2 separate regions of the Homo sapiens genome follow, and region 2 is linked to region 1. Evidence: fine-mapped expression QTL. A gene starts in region 1. The other region holds a variant in brackets. All regions are shown on one strand. Distances are between the middles of the regions.

The links. PIP is the estimated chance that this variant, and not a neighbour inherited with it, causes the effect.
Region 2: its variant is fine-mapped to the expression of DENND5B in blood mononuclear cells (TOPMed, PIP 0.93).

What each region holds. Positions count from the first base shown.
Region 1 is chr12:31,585,906-31,595,152 of GRCh38, reverse strand. It overlaps DENND5B (DENN domain containing 5B), which reads left to right and starts at 4,017. Exons shown (of 21, transcript NM_144973.4): 1 at 4,017-4,447. The coding sequence starts at 4,321. DENND5B-AS1 (DENND5B antisense RNA 1) reads right to left here and starts at 5,230. Exons shown (of 3, transcript NR_046909.1): 1 at 5,034-5,230. It also overlaps the pseudogene RNU5F-4P. RefSeq lists enhancers at 3,207-3,436, 5,417-5,496 and silencers at 3,867-4,156, 4,227-4,496, 4,647-4,986.
Region 2 is chr12:31,531,496-31,540,742 of GRCh38, reverse strand. All of the region lies in intron 1 of DENND5B (DENN domain containing 5B), which reads left to right. It also overlaps the pseudogene ANKRD49P2. Among named protein-coding and RNA genes, the nearest start is that of DENND5B-AS1, 54 kb to the left of the region's middle. The variant T/C (reference allele first, on the strand shown) is at 5,142.

The DNA.
Region 1 (9,247 bases):
CAAAATATTTAAGTCGTGTTAAGGAGAGGAGAGGTTATTTTTCTCTTTTGATGCTATGACAATCCTTGTCAACACCGTTCTTCACCACCACACTCCAGCCACATATAAACAACCAAGAAAGAAGGGATTGATTGCTAATGTAACTATTTAGAGCCCAAAACATTCATTGGACCACATTTTACTGGTAGTCAGAGTCACCATGTGCCACCAGCTTAGCAGTGCTATCAATCTCTCATTCCTCCACTTCCGCAGACCGTGGCAGGACTCAGCTATCCCAAGCATGCCATGCCGTCCATTTGAGGCTTTACCAGTAAGTCCTTTGGAGACAGCAGATCATTGCTCAGATTTTTGTTCACTGAGCTAATTTACTTCTCTGTCATTATTTCAGAGGACAATCTGCATATAATGATACATAGCTAATTCTTGAGTATCCTTTCAACTTCGTTTCATTGTAGCTTAATGCAGAATATACTTACACAGTGTCATCCTGAAGTGATAATTAAAAAAGTATACGGATATTTTCAAATTAGTGTTTAATTTTGTAATGTGTGACTATTTTCCTAAAAGCTTTAGGAAAGATTTTAGGAATTCTATTTTTATGAGATTAGTATATTTTAATTGCATGCATTGTTTGTTGGTGATTCAATTTTTTTCACCTTAAAAATATTAATGTGGGGCTTACAAACTCATAAATCAGTTACTGGTCAAATTTAAAAAAAAAATGACGTGCCTTGGCTAGTGCAAACAGTAAATCAGTTTTTTTACTGTGTTTGTTTGATTCGCTTGGAATCTAACAAACATTCTGTAAGAAGTTACCACCGAAGACAGGAGAAACAGATACCTGGCACTTCCTTCCTTACTAATGAAATGTTATGCATTTCAGTACTTTCTACGTGAGGAAAAGCAATATTGCATAAGAGTAATTAAAGTGTTCACAATTAGGTCCATACTCTGGTTTCTCTTCAGATCGTATACGTCTTTTGTCTTTTACTAAAGATTTCCGTGGAAGGGAACAATTCTGAGTTTTTGACTAAGTTTTGTTTTGTTTTGTTTGAGACGGAGTTTTGCTCTGTTGCCCAGGCTGGAGTGCAGTGGTGCGATCTTGGCTCACTGCAACCTCTGCCTCTTGGGTTCAAGCCATTCTTCTGTCTCAGCCCCCCAAGTAGTTGGGACTACAGGCACTCACCACCATGCCAGGCTAATTTTTGTATTTTTAATAGAGACAGGGTTTCACCACGTTGGCCAGTCTGGTCTTGAACTCCTGACCTCAGGTGATCTGCCCCCTTCGGCCTCCCAAAGTGCTGGGATTACAGGCGTGAGCCACCGTACCTGGCCTGACCAAGTTTTGAGGCCTTGCATATGTGGAGCTTATTTTTATTTTTATTTATTTTTTAATCTTTATTTTATTATTATTTTTTGAGACAGAGTCTCACTCTGTCACCTGGAGTGCAGTGGCATGATCTTGGCTCACTGCAACCTCTGCCTCCCGGGTTCAAGTGATTCTCGTGCCTCAGCCTCCCAAGTAGAGCTGGGATTACAGGTGTGCACCACCACACCTGGCTAATTTTTGTATTTTTAGTACAGACGGGGCTTCACCATGTGGATCAGGCTGGTCTCGAACTCCCGACCTCATGTGATCCACCTGCCTCGGCCTCCCAAAGTGCTCGGATTACAGGTGTGAGCCACCATGCCCAGCCCAGGACTTATTTTTTAAAAAATGTTACAGATATTAAAGTTTGTATATTTTTCTGGTAGAATCAACAACCTGTTATCACCTAGATAACTGCTCTTCTTTCAACACTCAAATATAAATTGAGGGGCTAAATAGGACCAGAGTTCTGCTAGATACCAGAAAAGTGAAGAACCACAGAGTCCAACTCTTGCTCTGTGGAGTTTACAACACAGCTAAGAAGACACAGAAAAGCCATTACAAGTGTTTTTGAAGAAGTACAGGGTGCAACATGACCTAAAGGTCAATTACCCAGACTGTGGCTCACCCTGATTTCTTGATTCTTCTTGTATTTTCTTTTCTTTTCTTATTTTTTTTGAGACAGTCTTACTCTGTTGCCCAGGCTGGAGTGCAGTGGCGCGATCTCGGCTCACTCTAATCTCCGCCTCCCAGGTTCAAGTGATTCTCCTGCCTCAGCCTCCCGAGTAGCTGGGACCACACGTGCGTGCCACCACACTGGCTAATTTTTTGTATTTTTAGTAGAGACAGGGCTTCACCATGTTGGCCAAGATGGTCTCGGTCTCCTGACCTCGTGATCCGCCCGCCTTGGCCTCCCAAAGTGCTGGGATTACAGACATGAGCCACTGCACCCGGCCAATTCTTCTTATATTTTACTAATTATTATTTTATTGATTTTTTTTTTTTTTTTTTTTTTTTAGTAGAGACGGAGTTTCACCATGTTGGCCAGGCTTGTCTCAAACTCCTGACCTCAAGTGAGCCTCTCGCCTTGGCCTCCGAAAGGACTGGGATTACAGGCTTGAGCCACTGCACCCGGCCTCATTTTATTTTTATAGAGACAGGGTCTCTCACTATTTTGCCCAGGTTGGTCTTGAATTCCTGGACTCAAATGCTCCTCCTGCCTTGGCCTCTCAAAGTGCTGGGATTACAGGCCTGAGCCACCATGGCCAGCCTCTTTCATTTCAAAATTGAAGAAAGAAAGTGAAGATACAAGCTACATTAAATGATGGTATGCACGCACATGTATCTTCTAGGAAGAACATTATTCAGTCAAATAATCGAGGTTCTCTCAGGCAACCTCTCTGGAAGGTTTGCTTGTATGTCTAGTGGTAGATGCCCCAAATCCCCAAAGAAGAAAGCAGGGAGTGGTGTGGAAGGGGTTGCCATGTGGAGATGAATTGCATTCAGTTTTCTATCTTTTAAGTTTTATTTTTACTTACATGGCCGGGCACAGTGGCTTATTATGCCTGTAATCCTAGCACATTTGGGGGCCAAGGCGGGAGGATCACTTGAACCCAGGAGTTTGAGAGCAGCCTGGTCAATACAGTGAGACCCTGTCTCTTAAAAAATTATTTTTTAAATAAATAAATGTTATTTTTTTACTTAGATGGAGACAGAGTCTCCCTCTATTGCCCAGGCTGGTCTTGAACTCCTGGTCTCATGTGATCTTCCTACCTGGGCTTCCCAAAGTGTTGAGTAAATTACAGGTGTGAGCCACTGAGCCCAGCCAGTTTTCTTTCAAAGGAAAAAGAACTGGTTGTCGAGTTCCTTCCGAGAAGGCAAAAGACAGCTGAGCAGGGCAAGAAAGCCGTGCCTTTGGGAGGAGCAGAGTTCATGGTCTAATTCCTGTTGCTTTAGCCTCCGATTGTTACTTGCGGGGAGAGCCGATAACATCGGATGGGTACAGGGCTGCGGAACTGGAGCGCCTTGGCTATTTACACTGACCTGGAAAATGTCAGGATAAATGACAGAAGGCGGGGGTTGGTGACTGCACTCCTTCTAGAAGTCTCAACGCTTTGTGGGTATTGAGTTGTGTTTTTTCCCCCTCACGGTTGACTTGTCACTAAGTCACTAAGGATGGCCTGTAAATGGGGTGACGGCTGGGGGAAGGGAGGACCTTAAAGTGAGACAGGCACCCCCACACAGGTCACAGTTTAAAAGACGATGGTTCAGACCGTTATGCGAAATGATCTCAGAGCGGCTGTTCACCTTCCCCAAAGCTGCATTAAAAGAAATAAGGATGGGTGACAACCCCTTTAGAAGACAGACCCCCACACTGAGGCTAGCCCTCTTATCGGCTGGCCAGGGCGAGGAGGGGTGTGTGCAGGGTCGCCCTCGATGCCGCAGCCGGGGCCAGTGGGCACGAATGCGGCCCCACGCCAGGCTTGGCCTCCGAACCCGCTAGGCGCGCGCGCACGGTAGAAGCGCGCGCCTCCGTCCCTCGCGAGCGCGCCCCCCACCCCTCTCCGTCGCACGCGCCGAGCCCCGGCGCCCCCGCCCGCCCCGCGCTCCCACAGCCCGAGCGCCGCTCAGCTGACCCGCGGGCGCCAGACGCGGCGGCTCTCAGCTCGCGAGCGCAGCTGCGGCTGCGAGGGCCTCTCAGGCCGACACTCCCCCCGCGCCCCTCCCCCACCCGGCCGGGCTCCGGACCCGCCGCGCGCGAGCCCGCGGCCGCTTCCCCCGCGCCGAGCGAGGAGGCAGGCTGCGGCGGCGAGAGGCGGCTGCGCGGCCATGGGCGCGCCAGTGTCGCCCTAGGGCGGGCGCACAGACCACAGCCGGAGCGGTGGTGGCAGCCTCCGCAGAAAGCCTTCCCGGGCGGCGGCGGCGGCGGCCCCTGGAGCAGCGCGGCCGGGATGAGCGGGAGCTGCGCGGCGCCCGGCCCGGGCTCGGGCTCCTCCCCGGCCGCCTGCCGCTTCGCGCACTACTTCGTGCTGTGCGGGATCGACGCGGACAGCGGGCTGGAGCCTGACGAGCTGGCGGGTAAGGCCAGGGCTGCGGCGGCGCTGAGCCCCCTCAGGGGCGCGGGGGACGCTGTGGGGACGCGCGGGAGGCGGGGTGCAGGCTCCAGACAAAGTCAGCTCCCGGTGGCGCCCTCCCGCCGCTTTCTGGCCGAACTGGCGCTCGGGCGCGATTTAATGACATTGTTATTTATTCCGCGTGCGGGCTTTGCGGCTGCGCCCACCGGGGCTTTCGCCTCCAGGCGCTGGGTTATTAATAACAGGCGCGGGGGTGGCCCCAAGGGCACGGACCCCGCCTGGCGCGCCGGCCCCTTCGCTTGCAGCCGCACTCGGAGGCGGCCGGTGAGTCACCGGGCGCGCGGGCTGCCCCCCGACCGCCGTGCCTGCCTCCCACCCGCCAGCCACCCGGCCCCGGCCGCGAAGTTTCGGCCCCGCACGTGACGCGGCTTTCGGGCCTCTTCGGGAGACGGGGAGTCGGACTCAGCTCGGCTCCCGCCGGGGTAGCGTCCGCGGAGGAGCCGGTGGCCGTGCGGAGCGAGCGCGGGGCGGGGACCGGTCGGACTCTGCCCTCTGCGCCGCCTGCCGCTCTGCGGTGCCGGCCAAGTCACCTTTTGGAATCCTGTGGATTTGGCCGCGTCTGGGAGCTGGCAGGGACCTTTGGACGCTCGGGACCCAGCACCGCGCTTTGTTGACACTGCCTACACTGTTCCCGAGTTTAAATTCAGTTGGGTGCACCGTGTGTTAGTGCCTGGTTTTCCCGGAGGGGTACCGGTCCTTCCGCTTGACTCATTTGATGGCGCAGTGCGGGGCTGTGCTGGGCAAACGACGCCGTTAAAAGGGGCCGCTAAAGGGCGATGGGCGGGGGCAGGGCAGCGGAGTGCGCAGTGTCGAGAGGAGGCCGGGGAGAAACAACTGATTTCATTTTTCACGCCTGTTCCTTTCTGCTTGCCTCCGCGGGATCTGAATCTTGATTTGTTGTTGTTGTTAAATGGGTGAGAGAAGTGACATCTACCGCCTGAACTTTGTGTTAAAGACTTAGGTCATAGCCTTTCAGAACAACTTCCTTTGGACAAATAATTCCTTATTGATTGCACTAACGTAAATTTTTCGCTTTTCCTTTGGTGGGGGTGGGGAGACTGGGAAGAATATATTAAATAATAAACAATAGTAAACAAAACTGTTCAGCCTTAAAATACAGTCCCCATCAACCCACGTCTTGGCTATCTTCTTCTTAACTCAGCTTCAGAGCAAAACATTTTCTTTTTTTCATATTCTTCGGAGGTAGAAACACAAAACATTTTCAACAAAAACTGTAAGTCTAGTTTTAGTTAAAAAAAAATTTGGAGAGATAATAGAATACCAAGTTTTTCCGTATGTGTAATTATGTAATCACATTGTTTCTTCAACTAAGATTTCATGTACATGTTAAGAATGGCTTTGTTAAAGGATATGAAGAAAAAATGTCTGCAGAGAGATTTGGAGAGATTCTTCTCGAGATTGGTGAAGGAATATTGTTATTTTTCTAGACTCCTTTCTTCCCTAAAGATCCTAAACATTTGTGGCACCAGGGTCACTTGGAGGCCTTCTGTCAGTGATGACTAATGAAAGGAAAAAAGCCTGTATTTTTCTTTTCCGTTTGCCTACTGAAGCTAAAACTGTACCTTTTAGGTGTGACCTAGGACTCTTTAGGCACAGAGAGAATGATGTTAACAAAACCATCAATTAGACTTTAATGCATTTTTAAGAAACAAACTATGATGTCTCTTTTTGCAAAACTGTGTGAGTGTGGGTGATTGGGATTTCTGCTTCTCATAATATTTAATGTATTCAGGTAATAATGTATTTTGCCTTGTAATATTTCAGTATCATTCATCCAACAGTTTTGAAAGCATCTATCTGTAGTCGGTTTTTTAGGCACTGGGGACAGCTGTGAAGAAAGCAGTCAGAAATCCCTGCCATCATGGAGCATACGTTCTAGTGTAAAGAGATAATGAAAATACAATCATCTCTCCGTAACCATGGGGGATGGATTCTAGAGTGTCCCCCACACCAAAATCCTCGGATGCTGAAGTCTCTTATAATAAAATGTTGTAGCATTTGTATATAACCTATGAACATTTTCCTGTACACTTTGTCATCTCTAGATTACTTACAATACCTGTTACGTTGTAATGTTATGTAAATAGTTGTTATACTGTATTGTTTAGGGAATAATGACAAGAAAAGAAGTCTGTACATGTTCAGTACAGATGCAACCATTGTAGGCCTAACTACATTTTCAATCTGTGCTTGGTTGAATCTGTGGATGCGGAGTCCACGTGAAGTGCCGACTGTATATAGTTCTCCAGATGTTAATAAGTGCTATGAGGAAAAATAAAGCAGGGGAGTGGATTTAGGGACATGCCAGCAGAGTGGTGGGATGGTGGGGTTGTGATTTTAAATAAGATGGTTAGGGAAGGCCTCACAGGGAGGGTGACATTTGAACAGAGCCTTGAAGGACATGAGGAAGCAGGCCAGATGGATCACCTGGGGGCACAGCATTGCACGCAGAAGAAACAGCAAGTGCGAAGACCCTGAGTGGGACAGTCACTAGTTTGTGCTGGTAACAGCAAGGAGTCCAGTATGGCTGGAGCTGAGGGAGAGGGAGAGTAGTAGGTAAGATCAAAGAGAAAGGGCAGGGGAGATTGTATAGGGCCTCATGCAGTTTTTAGGCTTTTAACTCTGAGATGGGAAAGTATTGGAAGGTTTTGAGCAGAGTAATGACAAGATCTGATGTGCCTTCTAAAATGACTGTTGTGGCTGCCATGTTGGGTAGACTATATCAGGGCAGGGGTAGAGGCAAGAGACCAGTTAGGGAGCTCTTTCAGTATTTGAGGTGAGAGGCTGGATGCTGTGGCTCACGCCTATAATCCTAGCACTTTGGAAGGCCGAGGCAGGTGGATCACTTGAGGTCAGGAGTTCAAGACCAGCCTGGCCAATATGGTGAAACCACATCTCACCTGAAAATACAAAAAGCTGGGCGTGGTGGCACATGCCTGTAATATCCCAGTTACTCTGGAGGCTGAGGCAGGAGAATCGCTTGAACCCAGGAGGTGGAGGTTGCAGTGAGCTGAGATCGTGCCACTGCACTCCAGCCTGGGCAACAGAGGGAGACTCTGTCTCAAAAAAAAAAAAAAAAAAAAAAAAAAAAAAAAAAAAAAAGGTATTTGTGGTGAGAGAAGTTGTTGGCTTGGTGAAGCAGCAGGAAGGACTCAGATTCTAGATAGATGTTGAAGGTAGGCCCAACGAGATTTGCTGATGATTTATATGAATATGTATGAATTCTATGAATATGGTAGTCATATTCAAAGAAGTGATCAAAGATGACTCCAAGATTTTGGGGCTGAACAATTATAAACTTCTCTCCTGAAATAGGAAGACTGATGGAGAATCAGACTGGAAATCAGTTCAGTTTTGGATGTATTAAGTTTGATGTGTCCATTAGACATTCAAATGGAGATGTCACATAGACAAGACATCTCTTGGGGGAAGATCTGGACTGTAGGTATAAATTTAAAGCCATGAAATTACTTAAGGGTTGAGTATAGATAGAAAAGAGAGGAGGACACGCAAATGATTGAGCCCTGGGGCCATTCTAGCATGCATAGGTGGGGAGGATGAGGAGGAGGAGGCAACCGAGGAGATTAAGGAGTGTGGATAGTGACATGGCAGGAAAACAGGAGAATGTCATATCATGTTCTCAACTAAGAATTTTCTTGACTATTTCCGTAGAGCAACATTTGGGGATCATGAAACTGTGTTAGGCAAATTAGCCAGAAGGTAGTTTCTGTTTTGCTGCATTAATTTCAAAGTTAATGATAGTCAAGTTTCTATTTTGCCTTGCTGGAGCTGATCTGTCTTTATCACACTTTCTTAGCAAGTTGTCACCGTGCCTCTAGAAGGTCTTAATTGACTTCTATTAAACATAAATTCTACCAGTTGCTTCATAGACTTTCTTAACATACGCATATTCCTAGAATTCACACTCTGCAGGTGGTGGGACATTGAAATCAAAGACAACAACAGTTAAATAGACTAAGACCTTATAATAAAACTTATCAAGGCTTCAAATGGTTTTTAGACCCTCCTAGTAAAACCAAGCTTAAACAGCAATGGAAGAGACTTCTTTCATCTCAAATACGTAGAACTCTTAATAGCTGAAAATAATTTAACTATATACATAAAAATATATTTTAAAATGGAGGACTTAGAAACTTTATGGTGATGTCCACATGTATATACTGATATACTCATATTACCTGTCGTCCTTTCTGTACCACATCGAAGTTCTTGTGCTTCTCCTACCCACTGTATATTTTCAAGAGGTACTTTGCCCATGAACAAAACGTCCTTTGGGAGAAATGTTTAAATTCCCTTTAAATATTAAAGATAAGGAAAAGGTTTCAAAACGAGATTCTTTATTGCATGTAGAAGAAAGGAGGTATAAATGGAGGTAAATCATGCAATTAGTTGATGTCAGGGAAGGCAGACATCATTTTGAAATCTTATTTTATAGCTTTTATTTCCTTTAAGACCTGGCTGTAGGAGTACACATGGCTTAATTTACAGCAGTCAATCTTTTGAGCAATGGGAAAATGAAGGACATGATAAGGCCTTGATTAAGTAAAATAAATATACAAGCCCTCTAAGAGAGAAGGGACTTTGCCTCTTTCGTAGTACCTTATATACAGTACACAGTGTTTAATAAGGGAATGAATATAAGTTTACATGAGTCTACAAATTATGTGATGACCAGAATATTCTTAAAGTGTTCCCTTGGTAG
Region 2 (9,247 bases), 54 kb after region 1:
CTATTCTGGGTCTTTTGTGGTTCCATGTAAATTTTAGGTTTGTTTTTTTCTCTTCTTTTCTTTTTTTTTTGGTGGGGGGGTTGGGGGGCGGGACAGAGTCTGACTGTGTCGCCCAGGCTGGAGTGCAGTGGCACAGTCTTGGCTCACTACAACCTCTGCCTCCCAGGTTCAAGCGATTCTTGTGCCTCAGCCTCCTGAGTAGCTAGGATTACAGGTAGTCGCCACCTCACCTGGCTAATTTTTGTATTTTTAGTAGAGACGATGTCTTACCATGTTGGCCAGGCTGGTCTGGAACTCTTGGCCTCAAGTGATCTGCCCACCTTGGCCTCCCAAAGCACTGGGATTGCAGGCATGAGGCATCACGCCTGGCCTAGAATTGTTTTTTCTACTTTTGTGAAGAACATTATTGGTATTTTTATAGGGATTGCATGAAATCTGTAGATTGCTTTGGGGAGAATGGGCATTTTAACAATATTGAGTTTTCCAACCCATGAATATGGAATGTCTTTCCAGTTTTTTGTGTCCTTTTCAATTTCTTGCTCCAGTGTTTTAGTTTTCATTGTAGGGACTTTTCACTTATTTGGTTAGTTCCTAGGTATTTAATTTTATTTGTAGTTATTGTAAATGGGATTACTTTCTTGATTTCTTTTTTAGATTGTTTGCTATTGGCCTATAGAAATGCTAGATTTTTGTAGGTTGATTTTGTATCCTGCAGCTTTACTGATTTTGTATGAGTTCTAATAGTTTTTTGGTGGAGTCTTTAGGTTTTTCCAAATACGAGATCATATCATCTGCAAACAAGGATAACTTGACTCCTTCCTTTCCAATTTGGATACCCTTTATATCTTTCTCTTGTCTGATTGCTCTAGCTAGGACTTCTAGTACCGTGTTGAATAACAGTGGTGAAAGTGGATATCCTTGTTGTATTCCAGATCTCAGAGGAAAGGTTTTTTTTTTTCCTCATCAGTATGATACTAGCTGAGAGTCTGTCATATATGGTGTAATTATATTAAGATATGTTTCTTCTATACCAAGTTTTTTTAAGGTTTTTATTATGAAGGGATGTTGAATGTTATCAAGTGCTTTTTAAGCATCCATTGAAATGATCATATGGTTTTTGTTCTTCATTTTGTTGATATGATGATATATCAGATTGATTGATTTGCATATGTTGAACTATCCTTGCATCCCTGGGATAAATCCTATTTAGTCATGATGAATGATCTTTTTAATGTGTTGTTGAATTTGGTTTGCTAGTATTTTGTTGAGGATTTTTGCATCAATTTTCATCAGTGATATTGGTCTGTAATTTTTTTTCTTTTAATATGTAATATGTCTTTGATTTTGGTATACAGGCCTCATAGAGTGAGTTTGGAATTATTCCCTCCTCCTCTAGTTTTCAGAATAGTTTGAGTAGGATTGGTATTCGTTCTTTAAATGTTTGGTAGACTTCTGTAGTGAAGCCATCAGGTCCCAGGCTTTTCTTTACTGGGAGATTTTTTATTATGGCTTTGATGTTGTTGCTTGTTATTGGTTTGTTCAGGTTTTGGATTTCTTCATGGTTCAATCATGGTAGGTTGTAGTATCTAGGAATTTATCCATTTTCTCTAGATTTTCTCATTTATTGGCATATAGTTGATCATAGCAGCCACTAATGATCCTTTGAATTTCTGTGGTATCAGTTGAATGTTTCCTTCTTTATCTCTGGTTTTACTTAGTTGTGTCTTCTCTTTTTCTTAGTCTGTCTAGCAGTTTGTCAATTTTTTTTTTCAAAAAAAAAAAAACCTTTTGTTTCATTGAAGTTTTGTATTTTTTTTGTTTCAGTTTCACTTATTTCTGCTCTGATCTTTATTTTTTGTTTTGTTTTGTATTTTGAGATGAAATCTCACTCTGTTGCCCACCCTGGAGTGCAGTGGCACAATCTCGGCTCACTACAACCTCCACCTCCCAGGTTCAAGCTATCCTCCTGCCTCAGCCTCCCGAGTAACTGAGATTACAGGTGCACACCACCATGCCCGGCTAATTTTTTTGTATTTTTAGTAGAGATGGGGTTTCACCAAGTTGTCCAGGCTTGTCTTGAACTCCTGACATCAAGTGATCCACCTGTCTCAGCCTCCCAAAGTACTGGGATTACAGGCGTGAGCCACTGCGCCTGGCCTGATTTTTATTATTTCTTCTACTAATTTGGGGTTTGGTTTGCTCTTGCTTTTCTAGTTCTTTAATATACATCATTAAATAGTTGTTTATTTGAGGTTTTTTTCTTTTTTGATGTAGGCACTTATAGCTATAAACTTGCCTCTCAGTACTGCTTTTGTTGTATCCCATAGCTTTTCGTATGTTGTGTTTCCTTTATCATTTATTTCAAGAAAATTTTCAATAATTCCACTTATTATTGATCTCTAGTTTTATTCTATTGTGGTCAGAGAAGATGCTTTATATTATTTCAGTTTTTTTAAATGTTTTAAGACTTGTTTTGTGACATAACATATGGTCCATCCTTGAGAATGATCCATGTGCTGAGGAAAAAGAATGTGTACTCTGCAGCTTTGGGATGAAATGTTATGTATGTATCTATTAGGTCCATTTGGTCTGATTAGGTCCATTTGGTACAGATTAAGTCTGATGTTCATTGATTTTCTCTCTGGAAGATCTGTCCAACGCTGAAAATGGGATGTTGAAGTTACCAGCTATTATTATATTGGGGTCTGTCTCTCTTTTTAGCTGTAACAATATTTGCTTTATGTATCTGGGTGCTCCAACACTGGTATATGGATCCAGTGTTGGGTCCATATACAATTACAATTGTTACATCTTCTTGCTGAATTGCCCCCTTTATCATTATATAGTGACCTTCTTTGTCTCTTCTTATAGTTTTTGTCTTGAAATCTATTTCGTCTGATATACGTATAGCTACTCCTAGTCTTTTTTGATTTCCATTGTCATGGAATGTGTTTTTCCATCCTTTTATTTTCAGTCTATGTGTGTCTTTGTAGGTGAAATGTGCTTCTTGTAGGCAACAGATCACTGAGTCTTGTTTTTTTGTTTTTTGTTTTTTTAATCCCTTCAGCCACTCTGTCTTTTTATTGGAGAATGTAGTCCATTTACATTCAGTGTTGTTATTGATGAGCAAGGGCTTATTCCTTCCATTTTGTTACTTATTTTCTGGTTGTTTTATGGGTCTTGTCTTCCATCCTTCCTCCCTGTCTTCCTTTTAGTGAAGGTAATCTTCTCTGGTGGTATGATTTTAATTTCTTATTTTTTATTTTCAGCGTATCTGTTGTATGTTTTTTGATTAGAGGTTACCATGATGCTTGCAAATACTATCTTATAACCTATTATTTTACACTGATAGCCTAACACTGTTTTCATAAACACACAAGCAAAAAGAAAACTAATAAAAACTCTACACCTTAACTTCATCCCCCTGCTTTCTAACTTTTTGTTGTTTTTATTTATATCTTATTGTACTGTCTGTGTCTTGAAAAGTTGTTGTAGTTATTTTTGATTTATCTTTTAGTCTACTTAAAATAAGAGTAATTTACACACCACAGTTACAGTGTTATTCTGTGTTTCTCTATATAATTACTGTTACCAGTGAGTTTTGTACCTTGAGATAATTTCTTAATGCTCATTAGTGTCCTTTTCTTTCTGATTGAAGTACACCTGTTAGCATTTCTTCTAGGCTAGATCTGGTGTTGATGAAATCCCTCAGTGTTTGTTTGTCTGGGAAAGTCTTTATTTCTCTATGTTTGAAGTATATTTTAGCCAGATAAATTATTCTGGGGTAAAAGTTTTTTTCCTTCAGCACTTTAAATATGTTATGCAACTCTCTTCTGGCCTGTAAGGATTCCACTGAAAATCTGCTGCCAAATGTATTGGAGTTCAGTTGTATATTGTTTCTTTTCTGTTGCTGCTTTTAGGATTCTTTCTTTATCCTTGACCTTTGGGAATTTGATTATGAAATGGCTTGAGATAGCTTTCTTTGGGTTAAATCTGCTTGGTGTTCTGTAATCTTCTTATATTTGGATATTGATAACCTTTCCTAGGTTTCTGCTATTATTTCTTTGAATAAACTTTTTTTTTTAAATACATCTTCTATTCCTATCTCTTTTTCTGCCTCCTCCTGAAGACCAGTAACTCTTAGGTTTGCCCTTTTGAGGCTATTTTCTAGATCTTGTAGGTGTACTTCATTCTTACTCTTTTTTCTTGTGTCTCCTCTGACTGTATTTTCAAATAGTCTGTCTTCAGGCTCACTAAATCTTTCTTCTGCTTGATCCTTCTGCTATTAAAAAACTCTGATGCATTCTTCAATATGTCAGTTGCATATTTCAACTCCAGAATTTCTGCGTAGTTCTTTTTTAATTATTTAAATCTCTTTGTTAAATTTTTCTGATAGAATTCTGAACTCCTTCTCCGTGTTATCTTGAATTTTGTTGAGTTTTCTCAAAACAGCTATTTGAATTCTCTGTCTGAAAGGTCACTGTATTAGTCCATTCTCGCATTGCTATAAATATCTGAGACTGGGAAATTTATAAATAAAAGAGGTTTAATTGGCCTATGTTTCCACAGGCTGTACAGGTAACGTGATTCTGACATCTGCTCGACTTCTGGGGGTGCCTCAGGAAACTTAGAATCATGGTGGAAGTCAAAGTGGGAGCAAGACGTCTCACATGATTAGAAGCAGGAGGAAGAGGGGCGGAGAGCTGCTACACACTTCTAAACAACCAGATCTTGCGATAACTCACTATCAGGAGGAACAGTACCGAGGGGATGGCTCTAAACCATTCGTCAAGGACCACCCTCATGATCCAGTCGCCTCCCACCAGGCCCCACCTCCAACATTGGAGATTATAATTTGACATGATATTTGGTGGGGATACAGATTCAAACCATATCAGTCACATATCTCTGTTTCTCCAAGATTGGTCCTTGCTACCTTGTTTAGTTCATTTGGTGAGGTCATGTTTTCCTGGATGGTCTTGATACTTGCGGATGTTTGTTGGTGTCTGGGCATTGAAGAGTCAGGTATTTACTGTAGTCTTTGCAGTCTAGACTTTTTTTTTACCCACTCTTCTTAGGAAGGCTTTCCAGGTATTTGAACTTGGGTATTGAGATCTAAGCCGTGTCTGCCTTAGGGGGCA[T/C]CCCAAGCCCAGTAACCTGTGGTTCTTGCGGATTTGTAGAGTTACCACCTTGGTAGTTTCGGATAAGACCTGGATGAATTCTCTGGATTACCAGGCAGAGACTCTGGTTCTCTTCGCTTACTTTCTCCCAGACAAACTGAGTCAGAGTGTGTGTGTGTGTGTATGTGTATATATGTGTGTGTGTGTGTGTGTCTCTCTCTCTCTCTTTCTCTGTGCTAATTCACCTGGAGGTGGGGTGGGGTGACAGAGTCACCCCTGTGGCTACCACCACTGGGACTGTGCTGGGTCAGACTGGAAGCCATGAGTATATCTTTATCCCTAGTGTTCATTAAGTAGCCTGCAGTGGACACTTAGGTCCCTGAGCTGATAGCACAAGAGGCAGATGTTCATGCAGTGATGGCGGATGGCTGGACACCCCTGCACAGTACTTGCAAGTGGTACCAGAGTGGCTTCTTTCTTACCTCAGTGTGATGCAGATATCAATGCCCAAACAAAAGCCTTTTTTTTTTTTTTTTTTTTTTTTTTTTTGAGACAGAGTCTTGCTCTGTCACCCAGGCTTGGGTGCAGTGGTGCAATCTGCGCTCACTGCAACCTCCACCTCCCAGGTTCAAGCTATCTTCCTGCCTCAGCCTCCCAAGTAGCTGGGACTACAGGCACACGCCGCCACACCCAGTTAATCAAACCAAAGCCTCTTGACCCCTTTGCATCTTGCTGCTGGGAAAGGAGACAGCAAAGATAACCTAGAACTCCTCCTGATGAACCATTACATCAAACCAGGGCTGAAAAACAACTTCAAAGAAACGGCATTTGATATTGCCAGGAGGACAAGTATCTATCACTCCTTCTTTGTAATGGTGGAAGGCTATACAAATTCTTCACCTCAGTCTTAATGGTTCTAGTAATTTTAGGTGTCTAAGTACCAGTGGCTCCTTCGTGCAAGATATAAAATATTCCCATAAGACAAAGTTGATTTAAAACGTCTTACTACAAAAATTCAGTGGTAAGGTAGTTACTATTATGTTCTTTAAAGTGAAATGCCTGACCTGATATCAGAATGTATTTGAAAGATGTTTGGATATATCTTTAATTATTTTTGTGGAGCTCGTGATTTTTATCAGAGATAATTTTAACTTGCCTAGACCTAAAAACTTGACATGACTTTGGGAGGCCGAGGCAGGCAGATCACTTGAGGTCAGGAGTTCGAGACCAGCCTGGCCAACATGGTGAAACCCTGTCTCTACTAAAAATACAAAATAAAAGTAAAAATAAAAATAAAAAGCTGAGTATCGTGGCACATGTCTGTAATCCCAGCTACTTGGGAGGCTGAGGCATGAGAATCGCTTGAACCTGGAAGGCAGAGGTTGCAGTAAGCCGAGATCGCACCACTGCACTCCAGCCTGGGCCACAAAGTGAGACTCAGCCTCAAAAAACCGACAAAAAAAAAACTTGACACAAGTTGAACAGAAACTGATTATTTTTGGTGCTGATCCAAGAGAAATGTATTTTTAAATACTGTACATCCTGGATCTTTGTTGAGTATTTAGTATATTGATATATATTTTTATAAGGTGAGGTAACTCAAAATTTAAGTCTTAAATATTGATGCAGTCATCTGTCTTCTCTACATTACCATAGCCAGTTACTTTCATTTTAAACCAGAAGAACTAACATATTAGTGACTTGAATCTTCATAAGTTAAAGGAAAAAAAAAAAACACTAAAAAGCCTAGATGTTTGTCTTTTAGACAATAGATAATTTTTAGGAAAGCAGTTAGCTAGGTGTTTCATCCATGAATGTTGTATACTGCCTCCCCTACCACAGTTCACACAATTCTGTGGATAGTCCTCCCTGGTCAACCTACATGTGATCTTTATTCTAATGGTGAATCAGTATGACCTTTTAGACATGCATACAACTACATTGTGGTCAAAGAGATCATAGTGTATCTGCCATCCAACTGCTTTTACCTGCCTAATCCTGCTGATTTGGGCACTGCTTACATAATCTCTTGAGTTCACAGGAAATGTTGATTTTCCAAGGTCTTTGTTTTATAGAAACCTTACAAAGCAAAGTGATAAGGGAAAAGGAATTCTAAAAGTGAGGGGATGATTATTATATTGAGGCTGAAACCACACAGTGGCTCAGGCTTAAAAACAGTATGGATAGTGACAAAAAGCATAATATAAACATTCAAGAAAATAAAGTATAAGTTTTAACAACAAAAATGATTTCTAGATTACTTACAATAGCTAATACAATGTAAATGCCATGTAAATAGCATGTACTGTATTTTTTATTTGTTGTACTGTATTTTTTGTTGTTGTATTGGCTTTTTAAATTGTTTTTTTTTCTTCAAATATTTTCAATCCACAGTTGGTCATATCTTCAGATGCAGAACTGTGGATTTGGAGAGCCTGCTGTAATAGGAGGGCAAATTTAAGCATTCATATTTTAACAATATTTAATAGCTCACAATATTTAATGTGAGCTTATTTACATGTAGTTTCTTTAATCAGATCAAAAGGATGATTATCCAATGACTTGTGCAAGCTCTTAGTCTCCAAAGCTTAGGAAAGAACTGCAGGTGATGTAGTCCAAGTCAATGAAATAAGCCTCAGAAAACCGATGCCTACAAATTGTGACTTGTTAAAATCAGAGTCCTGTTTATAATGTCTGAACCCAGAACTTGATCCTAGGTCTTCTGGTCCCACGGGAACCTTTTCTCTCATTGTACAAAATAATTCAGCCAGTGAAATAATCATCAACATATCTGAGATGGAACATGCTTTCATTTCAAACCAGATCCTCTTCCAGCCTTCCGTTTTTGAACAAGTTGGTACCACAATCTAACTAGTTGCCAAAGCCAGAAACTTAGAAGTTCTGAATACTTTATTTTTCCCAATTCCCCCATATCTAATTTTATCCTCAATAACTTATCAGGTACCATCAATTTTATCTCCTGTATAGGTCTCAAATCTACCTGCTTCTCTCTATCATTCTCCCACCTCCCTATTTCACTACTATATAACTCACTAATTTTCTCACAGGTCTATCCTGACCATTCTCCCATCTGTGTTCTCCATAGTGAAGCCAGAATGATCTTTTTAGAATGAGAATTTTTCCCCCTCCCTGCCTGGTCTCTTCTACACCACTTAAAGCCACCTCAGTGATTTTTCCATTGCTGTTATATTGAGGTCTATGAGCCTAAATATGTTAGCAAGCCCTGCCCACCCTCTTGTCTTAAACCTCCCCTCTCTTCCTGTATCTTTGCCCTCCAGACACATTGGGCTTATTTTGATTTTGGAATGCTTCTTACCTACTCCCCCTATCCCCCAGTCTTTGCCTAATTAATGACTAATTATTCTTTAAGTCCTAGGTCAGGCATCTGTCACTCAGGGAAGTCTCTGACATCCCAGAGTACTCCATGCCACCCCTTTATTTTAATCAACATTAAGTAAACTGTGCTTCTTTCTTCAGAGAATTATCTCAGTTTATAGCCATGTAGTCATAATTGCATTCCTTTGATTAATGTCAGTCTTCTCCCCAAACTGGAAATTCCATGAGAGCAGGCATTTGTTATTTTTTGTCCCCTGGTGTATTTTTTTATTTTCTATTATATTTCCAGTACACAGCACAGTGAAATGGCTCCATAAACGTTACCTGAGTAAGTGAAGTAATTCTCTGTAAGGTCTGGCTGAAGACCTTCATGTCTCCAAATAAGTAGCCTACAAGTATCTCTCTATTCTGATTTTACTTCTAGGCCAGTTCCAGCTTTTCTGTTGTAGTGAGTAGAATGGAGATATAAGCTCAGTTTCTGCTGGGCGGATCAAGGAAGTTGCAGGGTCCGTCAGTATTTAAGTGAATTTTGAACTTAATGAGATTCTTCAATTCATTCTGGAAGGAATGTAATTCTGGGTTGACTATAGCCACAATAGCATGATGCCAGGAATCAGGACTTAAAAGACTTTTCTTATGGAAGTAACTTCTGACTCAAACCCTAAAGTAAACCTATAGTGCTTACTGTCAGTCCAAGGAGTTCATCTCAGAAAAAAAAATCATTTTACCATAGTATATGTGAATTAAATGAGTTAATACAAGTTAGAGCT